2 linked regions of the Homo sapiens genome follow. The protein of the gene in region 1 interacts with the protein of each later gene in a pairwise test. Each region holds a gene or a part of one and is shown in the gene's direction. Other genes may lie near its edges. The genes, in order: AGPAT5 and CYB561A3.

Region 1 (3,915 bases):
GGATGAGCTCCAGTAGCAAAGAAGGAAGTGTTAACTAGTTTAACTGACAAATAAATGCTTCCCAGCTTGGTGTGCGATTGAGATTTTTGTTGCAAGTTTGTGAATCAATTTAACTGCCCCTGCCCTGGGGACTAAAGTCAGATACGTGCTTGTGGGAATCTTTGTCTTTCCCACACCACCCTGCATTTTAAAACCTCTTGTGTGGGACAGTCCCACCATGTAATAGCTGTTCTTCCTTACTCAGCTACTTTCCCTCCAGAGAGGCCAGTAGAAAATCTAGACTAGTTTTTTATAGTCTATTTTCATGTCACTTATTGAGAGCTACTGTTTTCTGTTAAATTGTCAGTAAATATTTTAATCAAGGAAAAGGGAGGTAATAGGAAGGAGAGAAGAACAAATCCTTAACCCTAGTAGGAACCTAATGAATGGGATTTGTTCTGGATAATTGCAGTAGTCCCCCAGCTAAAGAACCTTTTAAAAATATGTCAGATATACCCAAGAGGATTGAAATCGTATGTTCATACAAAAGCTTGTTCACCTGCAGCCTTCATATGCAATTCCTATGAATGTTCATAGCAGCATTATTCATAATAGCCAAAGTATGGATGCAACCCAAATGTCCATGAAGCAATTAATAGGTAAACAAAATGTGATCTGTTCACACAGTGGAATACTAACTATTCAGCCATAAAAAGGAATGAAGCACTGAGTCCTGCAGCCACACAGATGAACCTCAGATCCATGCTGAGCGAAAGAAGCCAGAAACAGGAGGCCATGTGCTGTGTGACTGTATTTCTAGGAAATCTTGAGTCACCATGGGCAAGATGCTATCACCTTTGTTCAGTGGCCAGAAGCGAGGGCACTAATATTTACCCTTGCCGGGGTCTACTAGATTGAAGCGTTTCCGCTAGGCCATAAACTTCCAACACGGTGACTTGTACATGTAGATATTTGATCAATATATAGCAAATGAATATTGATTTAAACAGAAAAAGGCAAGTGAGAGTGCTTTCTAAACTTAGAGCCCTAAATATATGAGGTTGTGGAATTAATAGATTCTGTTGTGTGTGTTTGAGGGAATTTAAAAATAATTTAGATGTTAAACAGTATATTGTGGAGGTGTTTTGTAACTAATTAATGACGGCACTGAATTGACTTCTAGGCCTTGCAGTATTAAAACATGTGCTAACACCACGAATAAAGGCAACTCACGTTGCTTTTGATTGCATGAAGAATTATTTAGATGCAATTTATGATGTTACGGTGGTTTATGAAGGGAAAGACGATGGAGGGCAGCGAAGAGAGTCACCGACCATGACGGGTAAGTGTGTTCACGCACCTGAAATGCCTGTACACGGTATATACAGTGCACATGTTTATGTAGAATTCAGTTTTACAAAGTAGGTTAAGTGTACTTTTTTCCTTCATTACATTTACCCGGTATATTTTTCAAGATGTTATTAAGATGTAACAGTGGAGATTTCATTAGTCCTGCAAAGTGTGGTATTTCTTGGCTGTCGTGTGAGTCCTGTGGACTCACCAATTATCATTAATCCAGCCTCTTTCTACTCAAAGTTCACACTTAAAAGGAAAGCTCTGTAAAAGGGAGGAAGACGTGAAGAAGGAGCACGCCCGGCAGTACTGAGTGCACGTTATTAGTCAGTGCTGCCCTTTTGCTGTATTTTTCGTAAAATATTTATTAAATTTGGGTGTCATTGTGACAAGAAGAAATGCAGTTAAGTGTGACCTTTTTTTTTCCCCAAACATGTTAGGTTTTAAGAACCTTTGAGCTATTGTCAGATATAACCAGAAAAAAATAGAATTTTAAGTGAGCAGGATAACTTAGTTAAACTAACCAAACATAGTGTTAGCTGTTAGAGAAATGTAAACATGGAAATAGGCAAACAGGGAAGTGTGTGGAGTTTCTGTTTCCTTTTCAAAATATCTGTTTGAGCTGGGGTTGAGAGAGAACACTAGGCTTCATGGGGTTTTTTTGTTTTTCGTTTTTTGTTTTGAGACAAGAGTTTCGCTCTGTCGCCCAGGCTGGAGTGCAGTGGCGCAATCTTGGCTCACTGCAACCTCCGCCTCCCACGTTCACACGATTCTCCTGCCTCAGCCTCCTGAGTAGCTGGAACTACATGCGTGTGCCACCATGCATGACTAATATTTGTATTTTTAGTAGATATGCGATTTCACCTTGTTGGCCAGGCTGGTCTCAAACTCCTTACCTCAGGTGATCCACGCACCTCGGCCTCCCAAATGAGCTTTGTGTTTTTACCTCATCAGCTGTTTGGGGTTGAGCCACTATGTATGTCAGTGTGCTTGTATCAGTAGGATCTACTGAGGGCAGATGTTCAAAATATGAGCCTCCAGCACGTTTTACATGGAAACCCTCACCTGAAGCATTCGTCTGAAGTTGATGTGCCTTGGAAATTTTATAGAGTAATATTTTTAACTACAACAAAACATTTATAAAAGTAGACATTATTAAAGCATTCAGAAGTGAGCAAGGATAGAAATTATTCTGCCCAACCTTACACGTAGGCCTTCTAGACGTAGTACTGTGCACCGTTACATTATCTAACACTGTCTGTGTGTCATCTTTGGATGTTAGGGATTTTTCCAAAGTTCAGTGAGATTATAGTTGTCAAATGATTAGTCTGTTAAATAATGATAAGATGAGGGTCACTCAGGTTTTAAAAGAAAAGCTCTTTGACTGAAAGAGAGAGCAGCTGTCTACTGCAGAAAGTTAGGGAGGGAGGCTGGAGGAGTGAGGCCCAGGGGCTAGCTAGTATAAAAATTGGTTATGGTCGAAGGAAAAAAAAATGTAACATATTTATATCTGAAAGATGATTGTTCTCATAATTGTATATAACACAGAGTAATTGTAAAGTAGAAAACTAAGGTGTTTTTCATTTTAGATGTAAATGTTTAGAATATGTAATGCATCAGTTTAAAAATTAAAACTGTACGAAATGCACAGTGAAACGTCTTCCTTGCTTTCCACCCTGCTACCTGGCCTTCCCTTCTCCTTCCTAGCGATAACCAGTTTTCTTAATTTGTTGTGCGTTGTATGTGCAAATTTAAGTATATCTTCTTATTCTACCATCCCTCCCTTCTTACAGAAAAGTGGCATATTAATATTTTTCTCTTTTAAACTATCGAAGGAGTTACTTACCTATTTTTGCATTTGAAAACAGACAGTTCATCAAGATTGTCGTTGGTTTATTAAACATAGTTTAAGATTAAACAAGTGTTTATAACCAATGAAAAACAGATAGACTCCCCATAATAACCTTGTTTAAATGCTGCTACTTTTATCATGTCCCCTCCTGTCTAAGAACCCCTTGGTTCAGCAGAGCTCATGGGTAAGGCCAGCCTCTGTTGCCTGCCATCGGAGGAATGCGTTCCAGCCGTGATCTCTGCCTTGCCTTCGCTTCCTCCTGTGCTGTGCCGTGAAGCCTCGGCCGTGGTGAAGCTGGCTGACTGAGTCCTCCTGCACCCCATGCATATTCAGTAGTTGAAGGCTTTGTGTGGCCAATCCTGCTTTCCACAGGAAACCACCCTCTCTTTTGTTGCCCTCATCCAAGGCTACTGTTCTCCCACAGTGACAGGCGGCACCTTTCCCAGCATAGCACTGTGCCTTCTCCTGCCCCTGCTCTTGCAGTACTGCTGTGGCACTGATGGCGTGTGTTACAGTGCTGGCACTTAGCACAGGGCTCTGCCTTTCTCTCTTCCCAGCCGCATCATAAGTGCCTTGAGGAAGCCAAAACCTTCTGTGAGTTGCATTGCCTGGGTTCCAACCTCCCACTGCCCTGCTTATCCTCTGCTACATGTGAGCTGACTGTGGCTTTGGGGTGGTCACTGCCTATGTGTATTCATTACAAATTGTCTCCTTTTGAAAGATTGACCTTT
Region 2 (3,915 bases), on another chromosome or scaffold:
CTCACAAGGTAGATGACATAATACATTATTACCTTCCCCATTTTACAGATGAGAAATTTGAGGCCAAGAGAGGTAAAATAATTTGTCCAAGGTCACGTCGTTAGTAAGTGGCAGAGCTAGTATTCAGATGCAGGCTGCACGGGTCCACAGTCTGTGCTCTTAACTACTGGACTAAGCTGTCTCTTACATAATTGATAGACTAGTATTTAACTAGGCAGGAAAAATGCCAGCAAAGAAGTGTGAAGTGCCCTAGGCAGAAAAAGCAGAGAGGAAACAGGGGTCTCCTGGAAAGCTTTATCTTTAGGGTTATGGTTGCAACACAGTGGCAGTTGTTTCTTTTCATCTATTCCAAGACCCACAAGTTGCTCTGGGGGTGTCCTATGACCCGCTGCTGTGCCAAATCTATAAAGAAATTTCAAAATGCTCTGGAGTGTTAGCGATTAAATTAGCATCGGTAAAATGTTTTGCAATTTATAAGCTCTTTTCATATTTCTAACCTTACGTAATCCTACAACCATCTTGAGAAGTAGCCATTACAATGTATATTATCCCCATTTTACACAGAGGCTCCGGAAGGTTAAGGCACCTCCTCCACCTCAGCTGGTGAAGTCCCACCTTATTGGACATATGTTCGCGGTTTCCTCATTCATTAAATTTTAGAGAGAGAGAGAGTGTCTCGCTCTGTCGCCAGGCTGGAGTGCAGTGGCATGATCTTGGCTCACTGCAACCTCCGCCTCTCGGGTTCAAGCGATTCTCCTGCCTCAGCCTCCCAAGTAGCTGGGACTACAGGTGCGTGCCACCACGCCTGGCTAATTTTTTGTATTTTTAGTAGAGACGGGGTTTCACCATGTTAGCCAGGATGGTCTCGATCTCCTGACCTCGTGATCCTCCCGCCTCGGCCTCCCAAAGTGCTGGGATTACAGGCGTGAGCCACTGCGCCCGGCCGCATTAAATAACACTGATAGCTACTACCTAGGTACTCACACCACGATAAACTTGTCAACCAAGATCGTTTCCTTTAATCCTCCCTACAAGTCTGCAAGGTGGGAATTATTCCTATTCTACAGGAAAGGACACAGAAGTCAGAGCTCAAGGCATTCCTCCAGGTCTCAAGTCAGCAGAACCCGGCTTCATAACTGTGACGCCAAACCCGTGCTCTTAACCACTACTCATAGGCCACCATCCAGGGCTGTTTTGAGGATCCGTTATGCAGAAACGCCCATGCCTGTCTCTACGTACGACGATCCCCTCCAGTTTAGGGCAGTGGAGACTCACAAGCTCATGAAGCTCTTTAATTCGTCCACCGCTACCTGCCGCCTTCCCTTTGTACCTAGGGCAGTATTCCTCACGCTTCCCAATCCACTTAAAAACGAGGCTTCCTTGGCAAACAACAACAAAGCATAAAACCCAAGCCCAAAACAACAGCACCAAAAATTCTGACTTCTGGTCACTTAACCCACTCCTCGTCAATCACTCTCACCTCCAAACTCCAACGTCGGTTGTCATGCGGACATCGTCCCGGCTTCCGGAAGCCGGCTTTAAATTCCGGAAGTAAATGGAGGAGGCGGGCCCCGTCTGCGCCGTGCGGCCTGCTAGTCCCCGGCTTTCTCTTCCCGCTCTATGGCCAGTCTGGCCGCCATGTTGGAGCTTTCGCTGTTCGGGGCCCGGCCTGCTCCGGGCCCTCCCAGCGTCGCCGCTAGCTGACTTAGGGCTCCCGCCCACACTGCGCACGGCCTTGCTGAGGGCCGGCTCGTAGTGGGAGGCTTCGCGTTCACCTGAACATTTCCGCCTCCTCTGGATGGGGGATGAGAGGCGGGGCTGATGCATCGCAGCAGTCCTGGACCCTGACTTCGGACTTGGAGAAGAAACGCCGAGGAGGAACGGGAGTTAGGGGGTTAGCAGCTTGGCGCGCTGGGAGCCGGCCACCCCTGGTCTCCGGACTTCACTTCCCAGGAGGCCTCGCGCGCGACTGGAAGTGCTGCGAGCCTATAAGAAGGCGAGGCGGCACCCGCCGCTCTGCTCTGGGGCGGCATTGCCAGCCGGCTGTAGGCATTCAGGGCAGTGTCTTCTGCATCTCCTAGGAACCTCGGGAGCGGCAGCTCCGGCGCCTGGTAGCGAGAGGCGGGTTCCGGAGATCCCGGCCTCACTTCGTCCCACTGTGGTTAGGGGTGAGAAGGATCCCGGGGCTGGGAGTTCAGGGACCTGGGTTCGAATGCTGGTTCCGCTGCTATCTCGCTTCGCACTGTCGCGATCCCCTTGCTCGGCCTCAATTTTCTCTTTTAGAAAGTGGGCACCTTTCTCCGCGCTCTTCCTTCCAACGCGGTGGTTATAAAGGCACGAAAGCTCTTCAGAGGACGCAGAAAGCACCTGGAGCTCCTCACCCCAATTTTCACCCATTGTTAGCTGGCACGAGCACCCAGCAGAGGAGTCAGGGATCACCCCTCGGGTGCCTGGAACGGTTCTTTGGACACCTGAGCCGGACCTAGGCACAGCCTGAAGTCGGGGTCTATAATTATTCCGGTGCTAAGGGGTAACTTGTTCACCTACCTCCTTGGCAGGAATATTGAGCCCTTCACTCCTCATGTTCCGACTTTAACAGAAGCTACCTTTGAGAATAAGGAATCCTCAGAGCTGAGAGGGAGTGGACCCGAATTCCTGTACCAGCTCGGCCACTTACCTTGGCTAAGTCATTTTCTTGTTTTGGGCCCCAGTGTCACAGTGTTTTTGATTTGTAAGATGAGGGTTTAGGGCTTGTATCCTAAATCTGGTCCTCAAGATTCTTGAAGTCCCCCAGTCCATCGGGGAGGGAGAGCAACAAACTGATTTTCTACCCCTTCATTTATTTGTAGTTCTAAATTATAAAAGTAACACTGCAAGAGTTTGGAGTAGAGCCTTTTTCTTTTTCTTTCTTTTTTTTTTTTCTGAGACAGAGTCTCACTCTGTCGCCCAGGCTGGAATGCAGTGGCACGATCTCGGCTCACTGCAACCTCCGCCTCCCGGGTTCAAGCGATTCCCCTGCCTCAGCCTCCCAAGTAGCTGGGATTACAGGCGCCCGCTACCGCGCCCGGCTAATTTTTGTATTTTTAGTAGAGACGGGGTTTCTCCATGTTGGTCAGGCTGGTCTCGAACTCCTGACCTCATGTGATCCGCCCGCCTCGGCTTCCCAAAGTGCTGGGATTACAGGCGTGAGCTACCGCGCCCAGCCTGCGTAGAGCCTTTTTCTAAGACTAAGGGCTGGATGGGAACTAGCATTTCTTACCCCTGGATGTGACCTGTTTTAGCTCAGCCGGGAGAATCCTTTTTCGCAAGAAGTTAATAATATCTTGTGACGTGAAAATTATGTGAAACTCAGACTTCAGTGTCCATAAATAAATATTACTGGAACACAGCCGTGGTGCTCATTTGTTAAGATGTTTATGTGGCTGCTCTTGCATGGGCAGAGTTGATGACATAGTTGTGACAGACCATGTGCTCTACAAAGCCTAGAATATTTACTACCTGGACCTTTACAGAAGAGCTTGCTGACTGCTCCCTTAGAATGGGGCTCTGCAAAGTGAGCACACCCTGGGATCACAGCCCAGCCTGCCCTTAGAACAAATGAGAGGATATTTTCAAGCATTTGCATTGCAGTTTTCACGGTTTTTTTGTTTTGTTTTGTTTTTGAGACAGAGTCTAGCTCTGTCGCCCAGGCTAGAGTGCAGTGGTGCGATCTCGGCTCACTTCAGCCTTCTCCTGGGCTCAAGCCATCCTCCCACCTCAGCCTCCTGAGTAGCTGAGACTACAGGTGGATGCCATCACGCCCAGCTAATTTTTTTTTTTTTTTAAGAGATGAGGGCTCACTGTTGCTCAGGCTGGTCTGGAACTCCTGGGTATTTATTTATAGACAGAGTCTATCTCTGTTGCACAGGCTGCAGT

Evidence for each region.
Region 2: the proteins of AGPAT5 (region 1) and CYB561A3 interact in binary tests that used the Homo sapiens proteins (3 or more experiments, as listed by UniProt).

The regions. Positions count from the first base shown.
Region 1 is NC_000008.11:6,746,508-6,750,422, forward strand, and holds part of AGPAT5 (1-acyl-sn-glycerol-3-phosphate acyltransferase epsilon), read left to right. Parts: intron 1-1,162; coding exon 1,163-1,321; intron 1,322-3,915. UniProt on the Homo sapiens protein: Converts 1-acyl-sn-glycerol-3-phosphate (lysophosphatidic acid or LPA) into 1,2-diacyl-sn-glycerol-3-phosphate (phosphatidic acid or PA) by incorporating an acyl moiety at the sn-2 position of the glycerol backbone.
Region 2 is NC_000011.10:61,359,986-61,363,900, reverse strand, and holds the start of CYB561A3 (lysosomal membrane ascorbate-dependent ferrireductase CYB561A3), read left to right. Parts: upstream 1-2,018; 5' UTR 2,019-2,168; intron 2,169-2,558; exon of another isoform or gene 2,559-3,915. UniProt on the Homo sapiens protein: Transmembrane reductase that uses ascorbate as an electron donor in the cytoplasm and transfers electrons across membranes to reduce iron cations Fe(3+) into Fe(2+) in the lumen of the late endosome and lysosome.